2 separate regions of the Homo sapiens genome follow, and region 2 is linked to region 1. Evidence: fine-mapped expression QTL. A gene starts in region 1. The other region holds a variant in brackets. All regions are shown on one strand. Distances are from middle to middle. Region 1 holds the start of PANK3 (pantothenate kinase 3). Region 2 overlaps PANK3 (pantothenate kinase 3).

Region 1 (15,371 bases):
CATGGATTAAAATGTCTGGCAACAAAATATATTTAACAGTTTTTATGTAAAAGTTGCCAATAAAAATTATTTCTAAAATTCTACTTTCTCATTTTATTTGATATGTGTGTGCATTACAAAACCAGGAACATATAATTCAATGAGAAAGAAGTCTATACATTTCTCCATTTTATAATTTACACATTTACTAAAATTAGTATATAATTTTTAATACGAGGAAGGAGTAATCCTCATTATCTTCTTTTGGAGAAATAGCTCGTTCGTCTTTATATTTGAAACTCAAATTAGAGATCTGGAGCTACATTACAGATAATCTTAAGAAACAGTATTCTGTATTCTGGAAAGGTACTTCCAGTGTAGGAAAAAAAGTTTTTTAAAAAAGTAAAATGACATTAGACCATAATTTGGGAAGCCAGGGGCAGCTTTGAGCTCAAACACAATACTTCATCACGTCAACTATAAACAGGTATAAATAACTAAGCAACATAAGCAGAAGAAAGTGACTATATTTTCTCAGTTTTGTTGAGTGCCTAGCAACATAGGCCTTTTTTTTTTTTTTTTTTTTTGAGATGGAGTCTTGCTCTGTGGCCCAGACTGGAGTGCAGTGGCATGATCTCTGCTAACTGTAGCCTCCACCTCCTGGGTTCATGCAATTCTCCTGCCTCAGCCTCCCAAGTAGCTGGGACTACAGGTGTGCACTACCACGACCAACTAATTTTTTTATTTTTAGTAAAGAAGGGGTTTCACCATGTTGACTAGGATGGTTTTGATCTCCTAACCTTGTGTGTGTGTGTGTGCAACAAGGCTGTTTATTTCACCTGGGTGCAGGCGGGCTAAGTCCGAAAAGAGAGTCAGCAAAGGGTGGTGGGATTATCATTAGTTCTTATAGGTTTTGGGATAGGCAGTGGAGTTAGGAGCAATGTTTTGAGGGCAGGGGGTGGATCTCACAAAGTACATTCTCAAGGGTGGTGAGAATTACAAAGAACCTTCTTAAGGGTGGGGGAGATTACAAAGTACATTGATCAGTTAGGGTGGGGGAGAAACAAATCACAATGGTGGTATGTCATCAGTTAAGGCTATTTTCACTTCTTTTGAGGATCTTCAGTTGCTTCAGGCCATCTGGATGTATATGTGCAAGTCACAGGGGATATGATGGCTTAGCTTGGGCTCAGAGGCCTGATGTTCCTGTCTTCTTATATTAATAAGAAACTCAAAACAAAATAGTGGTGAAGTGTTGGAGCAGCAAAAAACTTTGGGGGTGGTATGGAGAGATAATGGGCGGTGTTTCTCAGGGCTGCTTCGAGTGGGATTAGGGGTGGCGTGGGAACCTAGTGTGGGAGAGATTCAACTGAAGAAAGATTTTGTGGTAAGGGGTGATATTGTGGGGTTGTTAGAAGGAGCATTTGTTGTATAGAATGATTGGTGATGGCCTGGATACGGTTTTGGATGAATTGAGAAACTAAACAGAAGGCACAAGGTCCAAATCTAGCCTACTAGAAATGTGTTCGTTCCTTGAGTGCTGTTTTTAAAGAAAGGTAAACTAGAGAGCTATCCTGCAGATGATGACTTCATAGGAACCATAATATGCAAACCAGAAAATTGCAGGCTCCTTCTATTATTTCTAGCATATATCAGTTATAACAATTTTCTCCTTAAAATCAACAAAGCAGGGACTGAAAGAGAACTCAGCCCTGCTATAACTTCAATTAAGAAAAAAGAAAAGTTGGTGGCTGGTAATGGCCACCTTTTACACTGAAATCCTTTCAATTCAATAGACTTCAGAAATTAATTTCTTTATGCCAGAAAAATAATCACTATTAAAAAGCACGAGATGCAGAACCTCAGCAAGGCAAAAAAAAAAAAAAAAAAAAAAAAAAAAAAGGCACAAAGAAGGCAGCACAAACAGAAGAGACATAAATTCTCAATTATGATACACTCCTTTGTTTAAATCTTTTTTTAAAAATTATTATTATACTTTAAGTTTTAGGGTACATGTGCACAATGTGCAGGTTAGTTACATATGTATACATGTGCCATCCTGGTACGCTGCACCAACTCGTCATCTAGCATTAGGTATATCTCCCAATGCTATCCCTCCCCCCTCCCCCCACCCCACAACAGTCCCCAGAGTGTGATGTTCCCCTTCCTGTGTCCATGTGTTCTCATTGTTCAATTCCCACCTATGAGTGAGAATATGCGGTGTTTGGTTTTTTGTTCTTGCGATAGTTTACTGAGAATGATGATTTCCAATTTCATCCATGCCCCTACAAAGGACATGAACTCATCCTTTTTTATGGCTGCATAGTATTCCATGGTGTGTATGTGCTACATTTTCTTAATCCAGTCTATCATTGTTGGACACTTGGGTTGGTTCCAAGTCTTTGCTACTGTGAATAATGCTGCAATAAACATACGTGTGCATGTGTCTTTATAGCAGCATGATTTATAGTCCTTTGGGTATACACCCAGTAATGGGATGGCTGGGTCAAATGGTATTTCTAGTTCTAGATCCCTGAGGAATCGCCACACTGACTTCCACAATGGTTGAACTAGTTTACAGTCCCACCAACAGTGTAAAAGTGTTCCTATTTCTCCACATCCTCTCCAGCACCTGTTGTTTCCTGACTTTTTAATGATTGCCATTCTAACTGGTGTGAGATGGTATCTCATTGTGGTTTTGATTTGCATTTCTCTGATGGCCAGTGATGGTGAGCATTTTTTCATGTGTTTTTTGGCTGCATAAATGTCTTCTTTTGAGAAGTGTCTGTTCATGTCCTTCGCCCACTTTTTGATGGGGTTGTTTGTTTTTTTAGTAAGTGGTCTAATTACCAACATATATTTTCCAGTATTATCTACAAAATACTTATGATTGATATATGTCACCAAAATAAGGGGAGGGCATGAAGCTCAAACTTTACTTATTTGCAGTGAAAATATGAGTAAATATACAGACATTAAGTACAACCACAGGTCCACCTAATAGTTCCATGAGGTAAGAAAAACACCCGTTTCCTGGCCTGGTGCGGTAGCTCACATCTGTAATCCTAGCACTATGGGAGGCCGAGGTGGGTGGATCACCTGAGGTCGGGAGTTCGGACAAGCCTGGGCAACATGGTGAAACCTCGTCTCTACCAGAAATACAAAAATTAGCCAGGCTTGGTGGCGTGTGCCTGTAATCCCAGCTACTTGGGAGGCTAAGGCAGGAGAATTGCTTGAACCCAGGAGGCAGAGGTTGCAGTGAGCTGACATCATACCACTGCACTCCAGCCTGGGCGACAAAAGCGAGACTCCATCTCAAAAAAAAAGAGAAAAATACCAGTTTCCTAGGAAATCAAGCAAGTATCTACATATTTATAGCTTTGTTGCTTCTAGCCAAGAGACCCTTGAAAAGTAGGTCATCAGTGCACAAGCAGCCTACTTACGGCATATAACCTTAACATTTTTTTTTTCAGAATAAAACATTCCTTGCTAAGGTGAAAAAAAAGAACCAAAATACACATTTAAAAAGCAAAACAAAACACACATTACACAAATATAAGCACTTTGATGATGGTCAATATACAGTCCCAGACTGTGAGAATTATTAGAATCTCTCATGACCTGTTCATTATGCCTTTAACAAAATAATAGCTCTTATTCTATGTCTCAAGTGGTCTTATGAGAGTTGACATTAGTTCCCCATATGTAGCAAAAATATCTCAAACTACTACAAGGATGAAGTGCTATGTCTTACCAGACGCATTATATATGCAAAAGGAGAAATCTTCTTGTCCAATCACCTTTTAAGATACTAAACAGCAGAAGCTATCTAGCCACAAGAGCAGACTGTTAATTTCTAACAAGGTGTGATAAACTCAGTATCCTACTAAGTGTTTGCTAAGGAAGCAGAGAACACTAACATAACTATTTAATTGCTACTGGTACCATGCAGATTTCAGACTAAAGGGATCCTGGCCAGGAACATGGCTCATGCCTGTAATCCCAGCGGGAGGGTCACTTAAGCTAAGGAGTTCAAGACCAGCCTGGCAAGGGCAACATGGCAAAACCCCATCTCTGCCAAAAACAAAAAAATTAGCTGGGCATAGTGGCAAGCACCTGTAGTTCTAGCTACTGGGGAGGCTGAGGGGGGAGGATTGCTTGAGCCTGGCATGCCAAGGTTGCAGTGAGCTGAGATCGTGCCACTGCACTCCAGCCTGGGTGACAGTGTGAGATCGCGTCTCAAAAGAAAAAAAATAAAAAGAAATAGGGGAGGGGGGAGATACTAAACTAAATCAGTACTTAATTGTTCTTTAGGCATAAAGGGAAACCAACATGAAAAACGCTCGAAACATAGGGTATTTTAAAAGAACAAAATTATAAAGTTAGCATGTATGCTGGTATATTCTAGATAACGCTTCAACTTCCTGGATAAGACATTTCACTATTCTCAATAATCATTCCAAACAAAAATGGGTTTTGTTCTGAAATAGACTTAAGAAAATAATCATCTTCAGACCCTCAGTACTGATTCCTTAGGACAGCTTCAGGTAAGTGGTTTTTTCTTTAGTAAATTAGTTATTTCTAAGGGGAGCTATATTAGAAACTACTACCCCAACTATCTACTGGGAGTGATGACTCATATTACAACTGAGTTTACAACAGGCCAATCAAATTACACAGACACAAACTACAAATATATGCTATACCATTTTCTCTGGTCTTAACAAAAATTTCAAGTACCTTACTACTTGGGTTAATAAAGCACAAACTCAAAACCTACATCACACCACACTTAAATACATGTATCACCTTTTACTATCACCTTGTTAATCCAGTTACATGCTATACAGGTAACCCAAACACAATCTTAAAAATCTGTACCCTAAGAAATCATGGCAGGCAGGGAAGAGAGTAACACAGGATTGACTTTCTCCTTCCTTCCCCTGGCGTTGAATTAACACATAATTTCAAATGCTAATCTTCCAGTTACACAATTTAGAGGATGAAACTAATTCCTTTTTAAATCTTCTGGTTAATATATGCATTCGGGTTTATAACCTGTTAAGATATTGGTAATGTATTTAGAAGAAATATTTTCTAACACTTAGGTAAATAATGTGAAGCCAAGGTCACTTGTTTAGCCAATATAATATACAGCTTCTTCTAGTATGCAGTTAAATGATGCAATGCACATAAAGAAAATGCCATACACACACTATGTGATCAATAAATGTTTTAATTATGCCAAAAAAAACCCCATACAGGTATTCAAAAACAAAACAAATATATCTTTTGTTAACCTGAGTGATTTAAAGTTAAAATAATATTAATATTATTATTATTATTATTATTTGAGACGGAGTGTTGCTCTGTTGCCCAGGCTGGAGTGCAGTGGCGTGATCTCGGCTCCCTGTAACCTCCGCCTCCTGGGTTCCAGCAATTCTCCTGCCTCAAGCCTCCCGAACAGCTTGGACTACAGGCGCGTGCCACCATGCTCGGCTAATTTTCCTATTTTTAGTAGAGATGGGGTTTCACCATGTTGGTCAGGCTGGTCTCGAACTCCTGACCTCGTGATCTGCCCCACTCAGCCTCCCAAAGTGCTGGGATTACAGGTGTAAACCACCGTGTCCAGCCTTATTTTTTATTATCTGGGACAGTTCATGGTTGAAATACCTTCTTTCCCACACACAAAACGTCATGTTCCTTACTTTTACTACAAACAACAGACAGTAAAGTTACCTTTTACATATAAAAATGTTAGGCTTCTACACCATAGTAACTGACCAGATTTTCAGCATGATTCAATTTTAAGATTAATGGTCTCACAACATACCACAATGTTGTAATAATCAACTTATTTGGGGAAAAACAGGGGGTATTCTCTAATTTCTCAACCTAATGTGTATTTTTAAGTCTTTGGCTGGGACTACAGGCGTGTGCCACCATGCCCGGCTAATCTTTTTATTTATTTATTTGTAGAGATGAGGTCTCACTATGGTGCCCAGGTTGGTCTCGAACTCCTGGCCTCCAGCGATTCTCCCGCCTCGGCCTCTCAAAGTGCTGGGATTTCAGGTGTGACCCACCGTGCCTAGCCCTATTTTATAAACTTCTCATAATAATCTTTATAATCTCTCCTAAAACACCTTTGAAGGAGGTAGTACTCATACCTGATTATTAGTTTGTTCAAATCTAAGTAATCAAATCACTATCATGACAAAAGAAAATAATCACCACCACAAGAGTCAGAATTTGAGTTGGTCATACACTGTTCACCAAATGGAAATTCTAAGAGAAGCAGAGAAAACGTATGCGTGAGGGAAAATGTCCAAGTGTTCTAATTACTGCACCTGTTCAAGATGCATTAGTTTAATTCAGCAAATGAAAATTTAAAGTCTCTCTATATTACTTTTCATTTAAGCCTTCACATCACTATTTTATAGATTTCTTGAACAACTATGACAGGATCTATTCAGTTATAAATAATTTTTTAAAAATTTTAATTAACAGATGAAACTACCAGATAAAGTACTTAGACAATGCTCTATGGGTGCAAGAGAAAGAACACTGTATTATGAGTCAGTCCCCTTAGAGTTATGAACCACATAGCACATGGTTGGTACATGCTTGGAAAAGTTACTCTGGGGCTAAGTTCAATTTCCTCACCTGTGAAGTTAAGACCAAATTACCTTACAGTTATATAGGAATTTGTAGTTTTCACAGGGTTTTGGCTTGTTGCCTCTCAGGTGAGTTTTACAGGAACCCCGATAGGCGGGCAGGGAAGGTGTCAGCGCCCTGTTTTATAGTTGTGGATTTCTTAACAGTTAAAGAGATCACATGAAACACTGTAAAAACAGCAAAAGTATCAATACGACTCTAAGATGAGCATGAATCCCCACGTTCCTAGTCCTTCTGGGAGGCTATACTTAAAAAGAGTGACAATCACAATGGCTGGGTGATTAAATAAGTCAATTACTGGAATAAAAGGTTTTTAAAAGACTAAACATAAAAGGAAGCAAATGAAAGTCGACCTTTCTAAAAGCATAGTCAGAATTTAAGTACATGCATAGAAAAATATCTACGGGTATTCACCATAATATTAATAGCGGTTCGCTCCGGGTGCGGGGAATACGGGTGACTTTATCTTTCTTGTTTATCTGCGTTTTCTAAAACAAACATGAACTAGTTGATATTCTAAACAAAAACAAGCCAAAGCAATTACACACTGGCAGACTGCATGCACGTACGTTTGAAAGCTCCAACTGTAACAACAGTGACAACTCCCAGGAACCCACCGGCATTTCAAGGACACAAGCAGGAAGCCCGGAAATCCCTAAAAACAGGTGCTAAAAGCCGCCAGCGCAACCTGACAGCCGCGACCGCCTCTTTTCAACCTGAATTCAGGGGGAGCTGGGAGAGGAGACTAGTCTGGTTTGACAAAAATCAGAATCAGAAATTCCCTCTGGCACCTCCCAGATCTCGAAGAGAAAGTGGGAGGAAAGGCTAGGGGGCGGCAGGCATTCACCATGCATGAATAGGGGGATGGGGAGGACGGAAGCCTCGAACTCGTGGCTCAAATGGTCCCTCCGCCCCCATACCGGACGAAGCGCCGGCGAGGAGCGACGGGCTTGGAAGCCGACCGCCCAGCCAAGGGGCTTTCAGACGGGGCCCAAGGGTGCCCTCCCAACCTGGCGGGCCCCAGCCCCCGTCTTACAGGGTTTCTTGGCATCTTTGATCTTCATGGCGTCGGCCCGAGGGGCGATGGACGGCCTCCGATCCGGGGCACTGAGAGCAGAGGCGGCGACTCCGGAGGTGGCTGGGCCGCGCGGCGAGGCCCGGCCGGTTCCTCCCCTCAGGCCGGGCGGGGCCGGCCTAGGGCGGGGCGGCGGCGCCTGAGGAGATGCCCGGCCCAGGGGGCGGCCCCCCACCCCCGCGAGGGGTGGCCGGGACCGAGCAAGCTGGGGAAGGCCGCCGGCCTCGCCGCTCCGGGGCCCCCCCGCAGCCGCTCCAAACAAAAGGCCCCGGTCCCCGGAGCCGCCGCCACCGCCGCCGCCGCCGCACTGAGAAATAGCCCGCCCAGGCCGAACGCCCACGTGACGCGAGCCCCCCCTCGCTCCGCTTCCGCCCGGCTGCTGGGGATTGTAGTTCTCCGGTTCGTGAGGCCCCGCTCTCTGGCTGTAGTTGTGCAGGTGGACTACAAAGCCCGAGATGCATCGCGGCCCCTCCTCCGAGGCCCCTCAGCTTCCGCAGATCGCCTCAGAGTGGTCCCAGCGAGAAGAGGGCTGGGTCTTAGTCACGCCAGCGAGGAGGCGACCAATGGTGACTGAGATGGGCGTGCTGGGGAAGTCGGGCTCAGACCTCAGCAGGTCGCGGAGAGAAGGGGGAATGAACTCTTCGAGAGGACTGTCATGGCTGTTCGGCCATTCTCAGATTTCCCCTTGAGACAGGAAAGCTGGTCGTCAGGCCATGGAAAGCGCTACAATCAGGGCTCTAGAGCTGTGCTTAAGATAGACCCTTGAGTACATTGGCGGATTAAAATTATTCACAAAGGAATCCTTTTGCTTAATAGAGACACCTTGAATGTTAGGGTCGGAATGATGACAATAGCAGGAATAGAGGTAACATCTATGGAACGCGTTATGTTCATGGGACTCTGCTAAGCACTTTGTGTGATTTACTTAAATTCAGGGGCCTTGTGGACCACGTGCAATTATTCATTTTATTGTCACTCATTTTGAAGATGGGGCACGGTCTGAGGAGTTAAATTGCTTGCTGAGCATTCTTTTTGCCACCGATCCATATTCCCCTGGGGCCCTCCAGCCCAGCTCTCTCCTTCTAAAGGGAAAACTGACTCCCAGAGAAGAAAATTTAGTTGCTCCAGTTCTCACAGTAAAGCCAGGACACCCTTTCCCCTTGCCTCCTAGAGTCTTAGTCCTCCAGCTGGAATGGGAGAAGATGGCATTGGGTATCTTCTCTTGGCCTTCACTTTTGTTGCCCAGTTAGATGGCCAGGAATTCTGTAGTTTTTACAATAGATGGATAGAGGGTTGGCAGTAGAGGATTGGGCATTCCAGTCAAAGAAACCCGCTTACCAAAGAGCCTTACTGCCCCTTCTTGCAGATGATAAGCCAAGGGATGTGAAGAAGGACAGGAGAGGACACAAGCTACCATTTATTGAGTACATACCAAGGGCTGACACTTTGCAAAGTGCCTTACTTTTAAAATTTAAATTTAATCCTCCCAACTACTTTTTGAAATACAATGATTAAAAACTAAAAAAACTTGCTGGGCGCAGTGGTGTGTGTCTGCAGTCCCGGCTATTTGGGAGACTAAGGTGGGAGGCCCAGGAATTTGAGGCTGTATGTGATAGAGTTTGTGAATAGCAACTGTGTCAGAGGCATTTACCAGAGCGACTCCATCTTGAATAGGGATTGGATGAAATAAGGCGGAGATCTACTGGGCTGCATTCCCAGGAGTTTAAGGCATTCTTAGTTGCAGGGTGAGATAGGAGGTTGGCACAAGATACAGGTCACAAAGACCTTGCTGATAAAACAGCATGCAGTAAAGAAGCTGGCCAAATCCCACCAAAATCAAGATAGCAATGAAAGGAACCTCTGGTCGTCTTCACTGCTCATTATATGCTGATTATAATGCATTAGCATGCTAAAAGACACTCCCACCAGTGCCATGACAGTTTACAAAAGCCATGGCAACATCAGGAAGTTATCCTATATGGTCTGTAAAGGGGAGGAACCCTCAGTTCTGGGAATTGTCCGCCCCTTTCCTGGAAAACTCGTGAATAATCCACCCCTTGTTTAGCATATCATCAAGAAGTAATAATAAGTATAAGCAGCTGAGCAGCCCATGCTGCTGCTCTGCCTATGGAGTAGCCATTCTTTTATTCCTTTACTTTCTTAATAAACTTGCTTTCATTTTACATTCTGGATTCTCCCCAGATTCTTTCTTGGAAGAGATCCAAGACCCTTCTCTTGGGATCTGGATCGGGATCCCTTTCTGGTAACAACTGTACTCCAGGCTAGGTGACATAGTGAGACCCATCTCCAAAATAAAATAAAAATGTTAAAAGTTAAAGAAGAATTCACACAAATTCAAATATTGGTTCTATCACTTGTTAACAAACATGGGCAAATTACTTCATCTCTCTAATTCTTTAAAAAAAAAATTTTTTTTAAGATGCGGTCCCACTGTGTTTCCCAGGTTGGAGTGCAGTGGCATGAGCAAAGCTCACCGTAACCTCAAAGAGCAATCTGTGGGTGGGGCGGTGGCTACACTGTAGTCTCAGCCTCCTGAGTAGCTGGGACTGTAGGCATGTGTTACCATGTCCAGCTAAGTTTTTTATTTTCTGTAGAGATGGGGTCTCACTTTGCTGCCCAGGTTGGTCTTGACCTGCTGGCTGGCTTCAAGCAATCCTCTGCCTCAGCCTCCCAAAGTTTTGGGATTACAGGCATGAGCCACTGTACCTGGCCGTCTCTCTGATTCTTGTTGGAAATAATAATGCCTACATTTCACGGGTTTGAGATGGGGATTAAGTGAAAAATGCGAATAAGGTAACATGGCGGTCTGAATGTTTGTATTCGAACATGGTCTGAATTCAGTATTGAGAGGTGGGGCTTTTAAGAGGTGAATGGATCGTGAGGACTCTCCCCTCATGAGTGTATTAATTCATTCATGGATTGATGGTTTAAGGAGTTAATGGATTTATTAAAAGAGGCTTTATTAAAAGAGTAATAGTAAATCAAACGTAAAATCTAGAATCAAAATCTGGTCTGATTGGTGCCATGTGGTTCCTTATCTTTTACCTTTATTAAAAGAGGCGGAGGCCAGGTGCAGTGGCTCATACCTGTAATCCTAGCACCATAAGAGTCAAAGACAGGTGGATTGCTTGAGCCCAGGAGTTTGAGACCAGCCTGGGCAACATGGTGAGACCAGGCATGATGGCTCATGCCTGTAATCCCATCACTTTGGGAACCCAGAAGTTTCAGACCAGCCCCAGCAACATAGCATACCCAGTTTCAAGTGTTCTGTTAAAAGCAGCAGAAAAGGCTGGGTGTAGTGGCGCATGCCTGTAATCCCAGCACTTTGGGAGGCCGCGATGGGGGGATCACGAGGTCAGGAGATCGAGACCATCCTAACTAACATGGTGAAACCTCGTCTCTACTAAAAATACAAAAAAAATTAGCCGGGCATGGTGGCGGGCACCTGTAGCCTCAGCTACTCAGGAGGCTGAGGCAGGAGAATGGCGTGAACCTGGGAGGCGGAGCTTGCAGTGAGCTGAGATCGCACCACTGCACTCCAGCCTGGGCAATAGAGCAAGACTCTATCTCAAAAAAAAAAAAAAAAAAAGCAACAGAACATGGACTATGATGTATGTAACATATTATCTGGCATATATGTAGTGATCAGTAAGTAATGATTATGTTTATTATTTGGATTGTTATTCTTTTTTTTTTTTTTTGAGATGGAGTCTCACTCTGTACCCCAGGCTGGAGTACAGTGGTGTGATCCTGGCTCACTGCAACCTCTGCCTCCTGGGTTCAAGTGATTCTCCTGCCTCAGCCTCCCAAGTAGCTGGGATTACCAGCGTGTGCCACCACGCCTGGCTAATTTTTGTATTTTTAGCAGAGATGGGGTTTTGCCATGTTGACCAGGCTGGTCTCGAACTCCTGACCTCAAGTGATCCACCTGCCGTGGCCTTGGATTGTTATTCTTATTGTAAAGTAAAGGAAGAAAGCTTTTGTATTTAGACATTTTGCCTAAGGTCATTATTTGGGATCAGACCATAGGTCTAATTAGGTAAAAGATAAGGAACCACATGGCACCAATCAGACCAGATTTTGATTCTAGATTTTATGTTTGATTTACTATTTTGATTCCAGATTTTATGTTTGTTGTTTAGAAAATTTTTTTTTAGGGACGAGGTCTCACTCTGTCACCTGAGCTGAAGTGTAGTGGCGAGATCTCACTCTGTCACCCAAACTGAAGTGTAGTGGCATGATCATTGCTCACTGCAGTCTCCAACTCCTGGGCTCAAGGGATCCTCCTGCCTCAGCCTCCCGAGTAGCTGGGACCATAGGCATGGACCAAAACACCCGGCTAATTTTTTTATTTTTTAATTTTTTGTAGAGATGGGTTCTCACTTTGTTGCCCAGGCTGGTCTCAAACTCTTGGCTTCAAGCCATCCTCCCACCTTCACCTCCCAAAGTGTTGGGGTTACAGGCATGAGCCACCTTGCCTGGCCTTTATTTGTTTTGTTTTGTTTTGTTTTTTATAGAAACATCTTTCTGAGCTACCAGGAATATGACTTGGCAAGTTAGAATCCTGAATGGTAGACTTAACCTGCACTTCCTCTTTTATTTCCTGTTATTACTCTATCCCACACAGAACCTTAGATATTCTAGAATGGTCCTGTTTTCCACAGTTTTATTGGATGAGAGTCGTGATTTCTGATCTGACATGGCTTCAAAGAATACTCACTATCTAATATGATTTACCTGCTGCTTTTATAAATCTTATGGGCACACCAAGTTCTCTGACAACATATATCTTTTGGTTGTTTCTGGTTCTCTTTGACAGTATCAGCTTGGAAGTCAAAGGGGAATTGATACGTATGTCTTGTGATAGTCTGGCCATGGTCTGAAAGGAAGAAGAGCTAGAAATTAGAAGCCACAGAAATTTGGGTAAGTTTTGGGCACAGGCTCTTGCTAGTTTCTGTGGCCATAGAGATGAGTGTACACATGGATGACTTAGCTTAAAAGTTAGGCTATACACCTGTGATATTACTAGAGTTAACCATCTATTTGCTGTTTGTTCAAAGATGAGACTACTCTTTGGTCTGTTATGCCAGAAAATCACTGAACTTTGAATAGTGAGAATTCCTGTCTCAGATCAGCCATACAATTGCTGTGTGACCCTGGGAAAGTCCTTTTTCTCTCTGGGCTTCAAATTACCCATCTGCAAAATGAGATGACTGTTGGAGATTTTTTTTTTCTCTTTTTGAGACGGAGTCTCGCTGTGTCGCCCAGGCTGGAGTGCAGTGGCATGATCTGTGCTCACTGCAAGCTCCGCCTCTCGGGTTCACGCCATTCTCCTACCTCAGCCTCCCCAGTAGCTGGGACTACAGGCACCCACCACCATGCCTGGCTAATTTTTTGTATTCTTAGTAGAGGTGGGGTTTCACCGTGTTAGCCAGGCTGGTCTCGATCTCCTGACCTTGTGATCCGCCCGCCTCAGCCTCCCAAAGTGCTGGGATTACTGGGATTACTGGCGTAAGCCACTGTGCCCGGCCTAATATCTGCCTCCCAGGTTCAAGCGATTCTCCTGCTGCAGCCTCCTGCGTAGCTGGGACTGCAGTTGCCTGCCACCACGCCTCCCTAATTTTTGTATTTTTAGTAGCGACGGGGTTTCACCTTGCTGGCCAGGCTGGTCTCAAACTCCTAACCTCAGGTGATCTGCCTGCCTTGGCTTCCCAAAGTGCTGGGATTACAGGCATGAGCCACTGTGCCTGGTTTTTTTATTTTTATTTTTTTGAGACAGAGTTTTGCTCACCCTGGCATGAGCCATGGTGCCCAGCCCAGAGATTTCTTTCATCTCTACTTTTTGAATTTCACTAAGAACCTGTTCCCTTTTCAGGACCAATGTGAAGTGTGTTCAGTTCACTAAGAACCTGTTCCCTTTTCAGGACCAATGTGAAATGTGTTCAGCCATGTGTTTCCTAAAGTTTTCACCAGTGTGATTGAAACTGACAGGTCATCCTGTTTTAGTTTGTGGCCACTCTTCCTTCTGCAGCCTGCGTTGGCTTTCAGCCCCAGTCCCTCCTCCTAGCACCATCTGGTTAATTGCATTTTCTCTCTTTTCTAGCATGTCCTCAAAACCCATTCCTGGCAGAGTGAATGCAGGAGCTGGGAAAAGCATCTAAAGGGGCCAAGAGACTGTCTTCTTGTCTCAATATTTATTGTCTATGAAACACAATAAATCCAGCCCATCATGCAAAATGATAGAGGAGACCTGACACATCTTCATTTTGCCTTTACTGAGCGGGTATCCACAGAGACAGGTGGTGAGTTGTACCTAATGATGACTATAGGTCTCCTGGTATGAATAAACACACACACACACATGCGCACACACGCACACATGCACACATGCACACACACACACATACACTCACACCCTACACACCCTTCAAAGCCCAGATGAAGCTTTTAACAGCGGATTCTGTCTCTAATTAAATGGTCAAGAACATACTTCAGTCAGTCATTGGATCCACAAACTCAAATAAGCTAGGGGAGAACATCATGAATATTAGCATCCTCAGTCATCATCCTTGTCATCATCATTATCAGCAGCAGCAGCAGCATCGTCATCATCACTATCATGATAGTGGAAGCACAATTTAATTCAAAAATACTAATTAAGCTTGAACTATCTTCCAGGCACTGGAGTACTTGCTGGGGGTGGAGAGAGGTGAAAAAGAGAGAAACAATAATTAAGTTAACAAATCAATAAACAAGAATAGGCTATAATAAGTGATGTGAAGGAAATAGTCAGGTTGATGTGCTAAAGAGTGGCTGGGGCTGTGGAAGATTGGTTGGGGGTTCAGGCTTTATTCTAGATTGGATGGGCCAAGGAGGATAATCTCAGAAAGTGGCATTTAAGCTGGGACCCATGCAGATTGCTGGGAAAGAGTGTGCCCGACAGAGGTGTGACTGGTCCTGAAGGTAGATTTTTTTTTGAGGAACAGAAGCAGCAATGTGTGAGGAGTAGAGAGTGAGGTGTAAAGTGATAGGAGATTAATCAAAGAGTTGAGCTTGCTGGCCCTTGAGGGCCACCTGAAAATTTTAAGCAGGGAGTGATTTGTCCATGAATTTAGAGGATTATTTTGGCTGCTTTGTGGAGAATGACTGGATGGGAGAGGAGTTATGACTTGGAAATGAAAAGACTAAGAGACTCCCATCCTTCTCAACCCACACAGAGTCAGTCACCAAGTCTGAGGGGTTCCCGGAGCACTCCAGGCATTGTACAGGGACTTGAATCATTATGGGAGCAGCAGAGACGGGGAGAAGTGTTGGATCAAGAATTTCATTTAATAGTTGGGTGTGGTGGCATGTGCCTGTAGTCCCAGCTACTCAGAAGGTCAAGGCAGGAGGATCATTTGAGCCCAGGGGTTTGAGTCCAGCCTGGACAACATAGTGAGATGCCATTTCTAAAAAAAAAAAAAAAAAAAAAAAAAAAAAAAAAAGAGAGAGAGAGAGAAAAAGAAAAAATTAAGAATTTATGTCAGGTATTAGTGAAGGGTGAATATTAGTAAAGCTGAAAAAGGTTTGAAGAAGTTTACAAAAAAATGAACTTCATTTAATTCACGTTTATTGAGCTCTG
Region 2 (15,371 bases), 32 kb before region 1:
TTTTTTTTTTTGAGACAAGGTCTTGCTATGTTGCCTGTGTAGCTCTTGAATTCCCAGCCTCAAGTGGTCCTCCTGCTTTGACCTCCCAAAGCACTGGGATTATAGGCATGAACCACTGTGCCTGGCCTAGAAGTTGTTTTCCTTTTAAACTCAAATCTCACACTCCTCTAACTGGCAAGTTTGGCCCATTAATATTTTCATCTTTCTGGTTTTTTCCACATTTAAATTGTCCTGCTTTTTCTGTATTGATTGCTCTTTCTTGTTATAACAAAATTTATTATTATTATTATTTCTGAGACAGGGTCTTGTTCTGCTGCCCAGGCTGAAGTACAGTGGTGCAATCTGGGCTCACTGCAACCTATGCCTCCTGGGTTCAAATGATCCTCCCACCTCAGCCTCCCTAGTAGCTGGGACCACAGGCAGGCATCACCAGCTAATTTTTAAATTTTTTGTAGACAAGGTCTCACTATATTGCCCTGGGTGGTCTTGAAATCCTGGGCTCAAGCAATCCTCCTGCCTTGGTCTCCCAAAAAGCTGGAATTACAAGTGTAAGCCACTGCGCCCAGTTCCAAATTATTTATTTGGATAACATTCTGGTGCCATATGCCATTTGTCCAATACAAAGAGGGTATTAAAAAAAAGCACTGGGATGGAGGTGAGGACACCTAGGGTTGAGTTTTGGTTCTCTTAATAACTTGCTGTGTGATCTAGGACAATCTAGTTGACTTCTCTGGACTTTTTGTCCTCCCTATAAACAAATCTTGAGTTTGATTCAGCAGTCTGTGAGATTCCTGCTAACTCTTGGATTCTCTGTTCCCAAGTTTGGCTGGTCACTGGCTCTTGATATGTGAAAAATCCTAGGGCACCTCTAATTTGAAGTTTGCTCTTAGACGATAAGAGTCTTTTTAAGATTCAGGATAGCTGGGTGTGGTGGGGCATGCCTGTAGTCCCAGCTAGTTGGAAGGCTGAGGTGAGAGGATCGCTTGAGCTCAGGAGTTGGGAGGCCAGCCTGGACAATATAGTGAGACTCTGTCTCTTAAAAAAAGATTCAGGGCCGGACGTGGTGGCTCATGCCTGTAATCCCAACACTTTGGGAGGACAAGATGGGCAGATCACTTGAGCCCAGGAGTTTGAGACCAGCCTGAGTCACATAGGGAAACCCTATTTCTGCAAAAAGTAAATTTAAAAAATTAGCTGCATATGGTGGTGCGTAACTATGGTCCCAGATACTCAGGAGGCTGAGGTGGAAGGACAGCTTGAGCCTGGGAGTTTGAGGCTGCAGTGAATCATGATACCGTGCCACTGCAATCTAGCCTGGGTGAAAGAATGAGACCCTGTTTCAAAAAAAAAAAAAAAAAAAGATTCAGGATGGCCATTTTTTCTTCACGACATTGAGAAGAGTTTAGACTAAAGTAGCATTATAGAGCTAGGCACGGTGGCTCACGCCTGTAATCCCAGCACTTTGGGAGGCCAAGGCAGGCAGATCACTTGAGGTCAGGAGTTCGAGACCAGCTTGGCCCACATGGCAAAACCGTGTCTCTATTAAAAATACAAAAATTAGCCAGGCATTTCTAGTTCTAGATCCCTGAGGAATCGCCACACTGACTTCCACAATGGTTGAACTAGTTTACAGTCCCACCAACAGTGTAAAAGTGTTCCTATTTCTCCACATCCTCTCCAGCACCTGTTGTTTCCTGACTTTTTAATGATTGCCATTCTAACTGGTGTGAGATGGTATCTCATTGTGGTTTTGATTTGCATTTCTCTGATGGCCAGTGATGATGAGCATTTTTTCATGTGTCTTTTGGCTGCATAAATGTCTTCTTCTGAGAAGTGTCTGTTCATATCCTTTGCCCACTTTTTGATGGGGTTGTTTGTTTTTTTTCTTGTAAATTTGTTTGAGTTCACTGTAGATTCTGGATATTAGCCCTTTGTCAGATGAGTAGGTTGTGAAAATTTTCTCCCATTTTGTAGGTTGCCTGTTCACTCTGATGGTAGTTTCTTTTGCTGTGCAGAAGCTCTTTAGTTTAATTAGATCCCATTTGTCAATTTTGGCTTTTGTTGCCATTGCTTTTGGTGTTTTAGACATGAAATCCTTGCCCATGCCTATGTCCTGAATGGTAATGCCTAGGTTTTCTTCTAGGGTTTTTATGGTTTTAGGTCTAATGTTTAAGTCTTTAATCCATCTTGAATTAATTTTTGTATAAGGTGTAAGGAAGGGATCCAGTTTCAGCTTTCTACATATGGCTAGCCAGTTTTCCCAGCACCATTTATTAAATAGGGAATCCTTTCCCCATTGCTTGTTTTTCTCAGGTTTGTCAAAGATCAGATAGTTGTAGATATGCGGCATTATTTCTGAGGACTCTGTTCTGTTCCATTGATCTATATCTCTGTTTTGGTACCAGTATCATGCTGTTTTCGTTACTGTAGCCTTGTAGTATAGTTTGAAGTCAGGTAGCGTGATGCCTCCAGCTTTGTTCTTTTGGCTTAGGATTGACTTGGTGATGTGGGCTCTTTTTTGGTTCCACGTGAACTTTAAAGTAGTTTTTTCCAATTCTCTGAAGAAAGTCATTGGTAGCTTGATGGGGATGGCATTGAATCTATAAATTACCTTGGGCAGTATGGCCATCTTCACGATATTGATTCTTCCTACCCATGAGCATGGAATGTTCTTCCATTTGTTTGTATCTTCTTTTATTTCATTGAGCAGTGGTTTGTAGTTCTCCTTGAAGAGGTCCTTCACGTCCCTTGTAAGTTGGATTCCTAGGTATTTTATTGTCTTTGAAGCAATTGTGAATGGGAGTTCACTCATGATTTGGCTCTCTGTTTGTCTTTTATTGGTGTATAAGAATGCTTGTGATTTTTGTGCATTGATTTTGTATCCTGAGACTTTGCTGAAGTTGCTTATCAGCTTAAGGAGATTTTGGGCTGAGATGATGGGGTTTTCTAGATACCATTTGACCCAGCCATCCCATTACTGGGTATATACCCAAAGGACTATAAATCATGCTGCTATAAAGACTCATGCACACGTATGTTTATTGCGGCACTATTCACAATAGCAAAGACTTGGAACCAACCCAAATGTCCAACAGTGATAGACTGGATTAAGAAAATGTGGCAAATATACACCATGGAATACTATGCAGCCATAAAAAATGATGAGTTCATGTCCTTTGTAGGGACATGGATGAAATTGGAAATCATCATTCTCCATAAACTATTGCAAGGACAAAAAAACCAAACACCGCATGTTCTCACTCATAGATGGGAATTGAACAATGAGAACACATGGACACAGGAAGGGGAACATCACACTCTGGGGACTGTTGTGGGGTGGGGGGAGGGGGGAGGGATAGCATTAGGAGATATATCTAATGCTAAATGATGAGTTAATGGGTGCAGCACACCAGCACGGCACACATATACATATGTAACTAACCTGCACATTGTGCACATGTAACTTAAAACTTAAAAAGTATAATAATAATAATTTTAAAAAAAATTAGCCAGGCATGGTGATGCGCATCTGTAATCCCAGCTACTCGGGAGGCTGAGGCAGGAGAATCGCTTGAACCAGGGAGGCGGAGGTAGCAGTGAGCTGAGATCGCACCACAGCACTCCATCCTGGGTGACAGAGAGAGACTTTTGTCTCTAAATAAATAAATAAATAAAATAGCATATTGGAAATGAACCCAAGAAAAAACAGAATGTCAATAATTTAGTTTGACTTGCTTGCCTAGAATGGGTCAAACCATAAATTTCATAATCAGGGTGAGAAGAGAATTGAATTTGTTGACACAAGTATAAATGTTTATTTTGTATCTTTGTAGAAGAGCTTTATTGAGGTATAATCAATGTACAATACACCACACATATTTAAAAGACAATTGGGCTGGGTGCCGTGGCTCATGCCTATAATCCCAACACTTTAGGAGGCTGAGGTGGGCGGATCACCTTAGGTCGGGAGTTCGAGACAGCCTGACTAACATGGTAAAATCCCCTATCTACTAAAAATACAAAAATTAGCCCGTCGTGGTGGCAGGCACCTGTAATCCCAGCTACTTGGGAGGCAGAGGCACAAGAATTGCTTGAACCTGGGAGGCGGAGATTGCAGTGAGCTGAGATAGCGCCACTGCACTCCAGCCTGGACCACAGAGAAAAAGAAAAAAAAGGACAATTTGATGAGTTCTGCTATATATACCCGCCCATATGAAAGTATCACAGTGTAATGAATACATCCACCACACCCACAGGTTTCCTCCCTGTCTTCCTCCAGCTCCTGGACCCACACAACCAAAAAGAAGGGATACTTTCAACAAATGATACTGAAACAACCGTAAATCCACATGCAAAAAAACAAAACAAAACAAAACAAAAACCCTGAACCCTTACCTCATACCATACACAAAGATTGATTGATTATAGGCTGAAAGATAAAAATTAAAACTACAAATTGCCTAGAATAAAACAGGAGAAAATATCCATGATCTTGATTAGGCGAAGATTTCTTAGGACACAAAAAGTGTAAGCATAAGAAGCTGGACTTCAACAAGATGAAGCTCTGTTCCTCAAAATAGTATTAAGAAAATAAACAGATAAGCCATAAATTTGGAGAAACTATTCAAATATATATCCAACAAAGGACTTCTAACTAGAATATATGAAGAACTCTTACAAGTCAGTAACAAGACAACTCAATGAAAAATGGGCAAAAGATTTTGTCTTTATAAAAGAAGATATATATGAAAGGCCAATAAGGATCTGAAAAGATGCTCAATGTCATCAGTAATCAAGGAGACACAAATTAAAAGCACAGACAGACCATATGACACACAGGTAAGAATGGCCACAATTTAAAAGACGGACAATACCAATTGTTGACATGGATTCAGAGCAAGTGGAACTCTCAGACACTGCTGGAGTGAATGTAAAATGGAACCTCTTGGAAACTGTTTTCCATTTTCTTACAGAGTTACCATACAATCCAGCAATTTCACTATTTATCCCAGATAAAAACATAGGTCCACCCAAAGACTTGCATGTAAATGTACAAGCGAATGGATAAACAAATTGTAGTATATTCATCCAATGGACTATTAATGAGCAGTAAAAAGGAATGAAGTACTGATAACAATATAGATTAACCTCAAAACCATTATGCTGAGAGGAAGCAGACCCAAGAGTACACAACACAGCAAATCTATAGGGACAGAAAGTAGACAGTAGCTCTATGAAGTCTAGGGCTGGGAGAGAAAGAGAGATTGGGAATATCTACTGTATTGGTCCATTTACATAAAAACTCTAGAAAAGACAAATTTTATCTAGTCTACATAAGACTTTTTATGTAGTCTACATATCTACATAAAAACTCTAGAAAAGACAAATTTTATCTAGAGCGAATCAGTGGCTGCTTACAGATGGGGATGGGAGGGGACTGACTAAGATGGAGGAAGGGAACTTTTTGGAATGATGCAAATACCTTGGAGTGGTGGTTACATGGGTGTACACATTTATCAAACTTATTTAAATGTACAGTTAGAATATTAATGTATAAGCCATACCTCAATAAAATTGATTATAAATAGGTCCAAACCCAAAACTAAACCAAAATCAGCAAGATTAATTACAAATTCACTGAAATCATTTTTGAAGTAATAAACTTTGCAGGTTTGTCCCGAAAACCTGCAAAGGTGCTTTAGGAAATCTGAAAACACAAGGTGTCAGAATATTTTATTCAAACTGTCAAAATGAGACAACTAAAAAAGCTGCTATATGACGTGCAATTGTCTCTCTATCCATGGAAGATTGGTTCCAGGAACTTCTGCAGATACCAAAATTCATGAATGCTCAAGTCCATTATATAAAGTGCGTAGTATTTGTATATAACCTACACATCCTCCTATATGGTTTTTTTCCCCTTCTGAGTCTGCTTGCTAGGGAACTCCTATATACTTTAAATTATCCTTATTTTTAATACCTAATACATTGCAAATAGCTGTTATACTGTATTTTTTACTTGCATTATTTTTTAAACTTTTATTTTAGGTTCCAGGGTGCATGTGCAGGTTATACAGATTAACTCATGTTACAGGAGTTTATTGTACAGATTATTTCATCACCCAGGTACTAGGCCTAGTACCCAATAGATATTTTTCTGATCCTCTCCCTCCTCCCAGCTTCCACCCTCAAGTAGGCCCCAGTTTCTGTCATTCTCCTTTGTGTCCAGGTGTTCTCATCAAGCTTCCATATATTATTTTTATTGTTGTATTATTTTTTGTTTCAAATGTTTTCAATTCACAGTTGGCTGAATCTGTAGATGTGTAACTCACAGATATGGAGGGCCAAGTTACTTTTTTCAAGTTCAGCTGCTTGAATTCTTTTTTTTTTTTGAGATGGAGTCTCGCTCGGTCACCCAAACTGGAGTGCGGTGGCACAGATCTAGGCTCAGTGCAAGCTCCGCCTCCCGGGTTCATGCCATTCTCCTGCCTCAGCCTCCCAAGTAGCTGGGACTACAGGTGCCCACCACCACGCCTGGCTAATTTTTTTGTAT[T/C]TTCAGTAGAGACAGGGTTTCACCGTGTTAGCCGGGACGGTCTTGATCTCCCGACTTCGTGATTCACCCGCCTGGGCCTCCCAAAGTGTTGGGATTACAGGAGTCAGCCACTGCGCCTGGCCAGGTGCTTGAATTCTTTTAGTGGTATCATTTAATGTTTTGTGTTTTTTTGTTTTCAAAGAAATCTGGGTTGGCTGGACTCCAAACTCTTGCTAGAAGAAAATGAGGAAAATGGGCTTAAATCAAAAAGAATATGCCTTCATAGTTTTGGTAATTTTTGCTACTGTTTCCAGAAACTGTAAAGGTTATGTTTAAAGCCCTGGCTGGGGATAAGCACTTACTTACCTAAACATATGGTCAACTGCACTTTTGGGGTATTGTTAACCTCTGGGTAACATTAAAAACTATCAGAAAGTACCAATTTTCTATGAAAAGGATGTAAAGTTCCAGAAGCTAGTCAGGTTTTCCAGGTTTACTTTAGGGAAAAAGTCAAATCTTAAACTCCTCTCCACCCACCAAAACCAGATGTATAGGAATATCTTAAAATAGGAACTTATAGTATTACCATAGAAAATGATCAATAGATTTTTAAATGCAGAAATATTAAAGTTTGTTCAGTACACAATACACTCATTAAGGACTATATCATAGAAAGTAGACATCCTGCTTTCAAAATTTATTTTTTTCGAGACAGAGTTTCGCTCTGTCGCCCAGGTTGGAGAGCAGTGGCACGATCTTGGCTCACTGCAACCTCCACCTCCTGGGTTCAAGCAATTCTCATGCCTCAGCCTCCCCAGTAGCTGGAACTACAGGTGTGCACCACCACACCCAGCTAACTTTTGTAATTTTAGTAAAGATGGGGTTTTGCCACATTGGCCAGGCTGGTCTCGAATTCCTGGCCTCAAGTGATCCACCTGCCTTGGTTTCCCAAAGTGCTGGGATTGTAGGTGTGAGCTACTGCTCCTGGCCACTTTCAAAATTTATATAGCACTGTGTATTGACTCCAGTACAGACTTTTCCCTCCTTGGAAAGTTTATTTAAATGAAAGACTTAAGTGTGTAGCCTTGAATGTATGCTCTTTAGGAGCTTATTTCTAAGTGCTTGCGACAGCAGTACTTCCTACATTTGAATAGCTAAACTACACCTCAAATCTCTTCCATACTGCATCATGTTCTCCTTTAGTCCAGATCTTAGATTTTTTTCATCCTAGTTCTTGCTAATTTTTTTTAAATAAAAGATATGTACTTCACATGTCACATGGTAGTCATGTTCACGTTTTCAACTATTCCTCTACGCTCCAAGTAAAGACAATAATATGATTTGAAAACTATGCCTGGAGCCACGACAATCATACAATTTGAAAACACAGCCATCAAGTTTCCAACTTACTGCCTCACATATTAAGATGATTTTTTTAAACAAACTTAACAGGCGATGGATACTCCATTCTCCATGATGTGCTTAATTCACATGCATGCTTGTATCAAAACATCTCACATACTCCATAAAGCCTGTAATCCCAACACTTTGGGATGCCAAGGTGGGTGGATCACTTGAGCCCAGGAGTTTGAGAACAGCCTGGACAACATGGCGAAACCCCATTTACACACACACACACACACACACACACACACACCACACAAACAAAATGAAACAAACACCTAACCAACAAACAAAACCATAGCCAGGCATGGTGGTGCATGCCTGTAGTCTCAGCTAGTTGGGAGGCTGAGGCTGCAGTGAGCTATGACTGCACTACTACACGCCAGCTCAGTCAACAAAGAGACTATATATAAAAACAAAAACAAAAACAAACCCAAAACCAAAAAGCCAACAACATTCATTTCTGATGCAGGATAACATGGTCTCAGGGGGGCAAGTTTTCACATCTTAATAAATGCAAGCCCTGAATTTCATCAATGCCTTCTCTGTGCCAGGTACTGGGGATCTAGAGGTGAACAAGACTTTACAAAGTTCTTGCTCTCACAGAACTAACCACAACCTTGCATTTAATCACAGTGAAAATGTGGGAATATGTAAGTTAAATAATAAAAAGGCACACATAGTAAACAACTTAGATAATTTATTTAGAAAGTAGAAAATAAAAAGTATGATTCTAACATCTATTTAGAATATGAACAAAATTAGAAATGGTTAAACTACAGAAAAAAAGGCAGAGAAACTGAAGTTGGCTTAATGGTTATCCAATACAAACAAGCAAAACCCAAGTTACCTTCATGCAAATAAGCATTAAGGAAAAGAATACGGGAATGTTTACAGAATGCGCCATGGCAAACATTTTTCAAATTTACATAAGATACTGTACATAAATGAAAAAATAAATTAGGTAATTTACAAGAAATGTTTTACAGATTACAATAGGCTATAACTTAGTTTATTATGAATAAAATTTATGGCACATCATACATTTTTACATCACAGATTCAGTGTTAAAAGAATTCAGACATGATAAAGCTTAGACTTGACAAGAATGATGTAATAGAATGAGGCAACTGAAACTGAAATGGCATGTGTAAGTAAAATTAATCCCCAAATTAAAGGATTCCTTAGATTGGGACATAATAACATCTTCTGAGTACACTTTGGTCAATAACTGGTCATTAAGATAAACGCCATTCAATTTTAGTTAAAAAATCAGTTTTTTGCTGTAGTTTAAATAAAAAGTAAAAGCACACAGTGTATAAAAAATAATAAAAACCATCTTAATATTGCTTACATCCTAATACTATTAGTTATATTCGGGGCAAGCAGACTAGGATATTGGTGTTACTTCTATAAAGTTACCTTCTGTTTCTAAATGCTGTAAACTAAACTAAAACAGGTTACCCAGAAAAAAGTGGCAAATTCCAAAATGGCTTAATACCTGTGACAACTATTGACTGAGCCAGGTACAACATCGATGAAATTCAGACATACAATGTAAAGTTGAAATAATCCCAAATTATTTTACATTATTTATGTATACTTTACAAATAACACAAATATGGAAATGTTTTCTTGGAAAGCTGTTGGAACTGTAAGCACTGCAACGTATGAAAGAAACATATTTAGCAATAAAAAATTTAATAATATCCTACAACTGAATTAGTTGCATATTTATACCATTCAAAATCTTGATTTTAACCTCATTCACTCCTTTGAAAAATACATTCCTCTTTTGTTCTTTTAAATGCAAAATTAGTGGCAGTTGCAGCAAAAACGCCGAAATTCTATAAGAAAAAAACTGATTTACCCCAAACATATCATTCAGCACAAACTGCGGTACCTGAAATCCCAGTATCAGCTCATAGTACATTCATTCGTTCATTCATTCATTCATTCATTTTTGAGACAGAGTCTTACTCTGTTGCCCAGGCTGGAATACAGTGGCATGATCTGCCCTCTGCCTCCCGGTTCAAGTGATTCTCCTGCCTCGGTCTCCCGAGTAGCTGGGACTATAGGTGTGTGCCAACAAGCCTGGCTATTTTTTGTATTTTTAGTAGAGACATGGTTCTTCCCACATCTATCCCCACTCACAATGATCAGAAATAAGAAACAGCTTTTTAAAAAGGGCCACTAAAAAATCCCAAATATATGTAACACAAACAGTCCGACTTAACAATGGTTTGACTTATGGTTTTTCAACTTTATAATGGGGCAAAAGCAATACACATTCAGTTAAAAACTGTACTTCAAATTTTGTACTCTGATATTATCCTGGGATAACGATATGTGGTACAATACTCTTATTTGAGATATTAAACACTTCATTATAAAATAGGTTTTGTATTAGATGATTTTGCCCAGCTAAAGGCCAACGTTAAGTGTTCAGAACACATTTAAGATAGGCTAGGCTAAGCTGGGATGTTCAGTAGGTTAGGCGTATTAAATGTATTTTCAACTTACGGTATTTTCAATTTACAATGGGTCTACTGGAACATAACCCTATTGTAAGTCAAGGAACATCTGTATTCTAACATTTATGAATAATTTTTTGTACAATGAAAAAGTCATAATGCCCATATAATTCTGAAGTTAACACAGTAAAAATTCCAGATAACCTTTACAGATTTAAAAGTACAAACATTTTAATATACATATAAAACCTTTCATATTACTTTAAGGTATATCTACCTGGCCATTACAGGCAATCACATATTAAGAGAGAATACCATTCTACTGGTTTGGTGAGAATCCAATACCTAGTACCTATCAAATATATACCAATAAAAATTATGTAATAACTTAAAATTATATAAGCACTAAATATTAACTCCAAAACATGACACCAAATACCTGAAAAAAAATTTACTTTAGTTATCTCAAACACAGCCATGAATGAAGCAATTTTCTCAGGACCCTGAAAACTGACTCATTTCCCATCATAACAAACCAACTCCCTCATTTTACAAATAAAAATAATGTTCAAAGAGGCAAGACCAGTGACCAACACTACTTCTAATACAATACCAAATATGACCTCACATTCACTGAATATGCAGGAATAATGCAAATAAGTAGTGACTGCTTTGAGAAAACATTTGAATTTTTTGGAAGTGGAAATTAATTATTCAAAATTTAGATATGTCAGAAAAGCTGGGATGATTGATTTTCACACCACCATTATCGTGAATGGGCTATCCAAATACTCTTAACAGAAGGAATTCCTTTTTTAGGTCTTTAGTGATTATTACTAGGCTCAGTAGAAACCAGAAGACAATTATTCTCTTAAATATTGAAAAGAGGCAGTAATATAGATAAAACACACTATTTTCTGAGATTATCTGATGATAGAAACAAAGTTGGCTGAATTCCTTAGGTATTAGAATAAACATAAACTTGATCATGGATACCTCATGGCAGATCACTTTAAGTGAGGTCAGAGAGTATTATCACAAAAAGATAATATATTTCTAATGTTTTGTTCACACCCACCACAAAACAGTTAAGTTAAATTCAAAATAATGTACACTCATTTTCATTATCCTCTATCAGTTTTCACATGGCTTTAAACAGTGAATTTCTAAACTACATTCTCAAATGCAATAGACTAAAATGCATAAAGTGCTCAACAGAAAAAGATACAATATGAAAAAACTTTGCTTATAATATACAGAGTGGTTATAAAGAACATATGGAAATTACTATCCAGTTAAGCTTTCCATCCAAGAAAACAACCTTAAAAATCAAGGCAAGATGGACTACTCTTTGAAGGCAAGAATACTGCTGGAATAAGAGGAAAACCTTTCCACTTTGTGCTGCATCATTCTGCTTATAGAAACAGTCTTTAAGGGACTGGTATTTACATTATAGCAATCACATGTACACTCAAAGGTAAAAGAAAAAAAACCTCAGAAATTTTTATAGAGTCTAATATTTGGCAAATAATCTGAACCACTTTAAGGGCTTTCAATTACCATGTATATTACTGGCAATAGTACTGACTTTACCCAAACTAAGAGACCACCTAATTTCCAACTTTATTTAGAGTAGCTGAGCAAGGAACTGCCATGTCAAATTACATGGCAAGTTTACTAATAGTCTTTGGAAAAGATGAGTGTAGAACTTAAAAGGCACTAGTTCTACAAGTCTCTAATTAAAAGGCAATCTTCTCGCGGGGTCAGGGTGGTGGTGATGGGAAATTCTATACCTTGTGTTGTTTGCCTAGCCTCACAGCAAACTGACAGTGGTTGCATTTGAAAAAGTTACCAGATTTTTTAAGAATGAAAATTAAGCCCAAAAGTTACAAAGATTTTTCTGTGTACAGAGGTCTACAATGCATTAAAGTTTCTTTTTAATCCTTAGAAATTGGCTGCTCAAAGTCCAATTTTAGAAATGAAGTCAATGGAATCATGAGATCTGCTTCAGTGAAGTACGTATGTATTTTGGGTTGTTGGGAACTATGCCCAGTTGACTCATACTCTCTCAAATGTGGTCTACTGGAAAGATTCAGGTCCCCTAAGAGAACTTGGCATAGTACCATGGTCAGATGGTAACAGAAATACATAAGCATGCCATGACCCTAAAGCAACAACACACTTAAACTAGATAATAATTGTTCAGGAAGAGCAATCCAACTAGAAAGTTGGAGGTCCAGTTGGAGCAACCAGCCACTGCTATTGCAAACTGAAGAGTGTGGCCACAGTATTCCAGGGAACGGAGTCTGGTCCAACTTCAGAGAAGGCCACAAAGACCAAGATAGCCCCACTACAGACAAAGCTCATCCCACCATACTCATCCTTTAATAACAAAGAAACAATCATGAGGACAGAACAAAACGCCATGCCTCAAGACCTATCATATGTAAAGTCCTTCCTGCCCTTTCAACCACAAACAGAGAGACTACAGTCAAGAAGATAATATTAACCACTCCTGCACTAATCTATAGATTGGCTTCTCAACACCTGCATCCTTGAAGATTCTCATTGAGTAATAGAAGACAACATTGATTCCAGAGAGCTACTGAGAGAGCTGGAGCATGATGGAAATGACAGTGGGTTGTTGGTAGCTGGGTACTCTAAAGAGCGCCAGTGTAGTGACTTGCTTTTCTTGTATCATCCTAGCACTCTTATCTCCTAGATGTCCTGGGACACATCCTGAGTCCCCTACAATTGCTGAAGGATCTCATTAGTACTCTTCCTTTCTGTTAATGAGCAAAAACTTACGACTTCCAGGGCAAAATGGAAGGGCTACACTTTATAGGACAGCTGGAAGGATGGTAAAGCCCAGTATCACTGGGCATAGCTCTTCAGACCCCAAGATGAACTCCAGACCAAAGATCTGGATCTCCAGAATACCAACGACGTCCAGCTGGTTGAGAGCACTAAAGGTACCCCAAAGGGGAGTAGGCGAGATCTCTCCAATGTACATGGGCACAAAACTTGTGCAGAGTCCGCATTACAAGCCAGTAATCTAGTGGCCCAGGATCAGCATTTCAACCAACTCAGCTTGTCTGCAGAATCCCATAAGGCAACCAGTAATAGCCAACAAATTATGATAAGCATTGAACTGCACCTGCCAAAGTGGTTGACAAAGAGTGCAACAGAAAGGAGCCAATCATATCACCATTGGGGAAGATGGCCACAGACAAGGGCCAGGGGGACATGAGCAAAACCTCAGAGGGAGAGTCTTCTGACCTCTCTTTCAAAGTGTAACTGAGAAAGTCCTGTATGACTGTCTCAGGAGCACTGATGACTCCAATGTTGTAGCCAAACTGAAAAGAAGAGGTGGGGTGACCTGGGTCCCCATGGCCCTTATCTAATTCTTTTCAAATATTCAAGAAGAGCTAGGAGTGGGATTCCAGAGACACTTCTTCCAGCCAACAAAACCTTCAAAGTGTCCTTGGCAGCAAGTTTTCAGGTCCTCAGTAATGCTATAAAACTCACTCATCATTACAGCATCTCTGCATTCTTGCTTTACCACATTTATCTCAGGCCCAAACTTAGTTATTTCTTTGTATTACATCTGAACCATCAAAGCTAAATATTTTATTCTATTATGAACAACGGCAACAAAACCACGTTTATCCCAAATAAATGTTACAGGAATCTAATAGATGAGCTATTTTGAAACTTTGTGGGAGTCTGAGGCAATACTGCAGAATTACTAAAAGGATCAGTGTTTAGTAAACAAAAGCATAATAGTTCCAAAATTTGTAAAGCCTTTTACCTGGGAATTTATTCTCTCTTTTGTATTTTTGATAGTGATTACAAAGTTTTTCAGATTTTTATGTTGGCAAGTTAACACTGGAGGTCCAATAGTTTAGTGAAGTTGTTTTGAGACTCTTGCTAATGGTTTAGGAAGTAGAAATGCTTGGGGATAAAATTGACTTCTATACATTACCAGTAAATCTAGATGTACTTTAAAGAGCTTAAAAAATTGTTTACATTACACAAGGTAAGTATCACTATGGGTTTTTTTGTTTACAGACCGCAGGTTTACTTAATAGTTTTCAGTAGACTATCAAGAGATGCATGATAAAGACATTTCCCCATGTAGTTTTCAAATTTTATACTCAAGTCCTTATATTCGATTACAGGCATGAGCCACTGCACCCAGCCTCAATTGTTTAAAATTCAGTTTTCTTTACCTGAAGATATGAATGTATGAATTATTAGAGTGGTTATTTAGGAGGAAAAGCGTGTAAAGTTAAGTTTTTAGAATTTAGACTGTTTGAAACTCTGAATTCATGTCAGTCAGTAGCCATTTTAAAACCCTACAATGACTTCATGTTCCTTGCTTTAATATTTCCATTGTAGTGACTAAATATTGGAGCCAAAATTCCATTAGTTCAATTTATTTTAAAAGTTTCTGATTTGTATATCTGTACAGATAAGAATCTTAATTGAATGACAGTAACTACAAGTTTTATACCTGTGGCAAATACTGTATTAGCATCTATAGATTTAGGGCAATCTTTAAGAAAAAATGGAATGGTCAGAGTCTAAGTTATTTCATCACTGTACTTTGGTTAATGTGAACTATGATTCATATATTTTATCCTTTCAAACTGAAATTACCTGCTAGAGTGAGCAACCATCTCACCACTGTGGCTCTTTAGCTTTTCCCATATGTAATCTAGAGGTACTGGAATAATAAGAACACAAAATCATAATGAAGGCTGCCAAAGATTATAATTTTTTATTAAGATCTCGAGTAACTCCCTGTAAGCTCACTGTGGTAAATAGATTTGGTTCTAATACCACAATTCCTCAAAGCTCTATGTTCTTAACGGTGCTGTCTTAATAGAAATAAAATGTAAACCATGTGTGATTTTATCTTTTCTAGTAAGCACATTTAAAAATAATTGGAAACAGAT

What was found. PIP is the estimated chance that this variant, and not a neighbour inherited with it, causes the effect. A credible set is the group of variants that fine-mapping cannot tell apart.
Region 2: its variant is the best candidate, but not a certain one, in a credible set for the expression of PANK3 in fibroblasts (GTEx, PIP 0.56).

The regions. Positions count from the first base shown.
Region 1 is chr5:168,571,566-168,586,936 of GRCh38, forward strand. It overlaps PANK3 (pantothenate kinase 3), which reads right to left and starts at 7,803. Exons shown (of 7, transcript NM_024594.4): 1 at 7,691-7,803. The coding sequence starts at 7,718. RefSeq lists enhancers at 7,531-7,600, 7,691-8,234 and silencers at 7,751-8,080, 12,277-12,326.
Region 2 is chr5:168,539,879-168,555,249 of GRCh38, forward strand. It overlaps PANK3 (pantothenate kinase 3), which reads right to left. Exons shown (of 7, transcript NM_024594.4): 7 at 8,617-15,371. It also overlaps the pseudogene SLC2A3P1. Among named protein-coding and RNA genes, the nearest start is that of MIR103B1, 13 kb to the right of the region's middle. The variant T/C (reference allele first, on the strand shown) is at 6,554.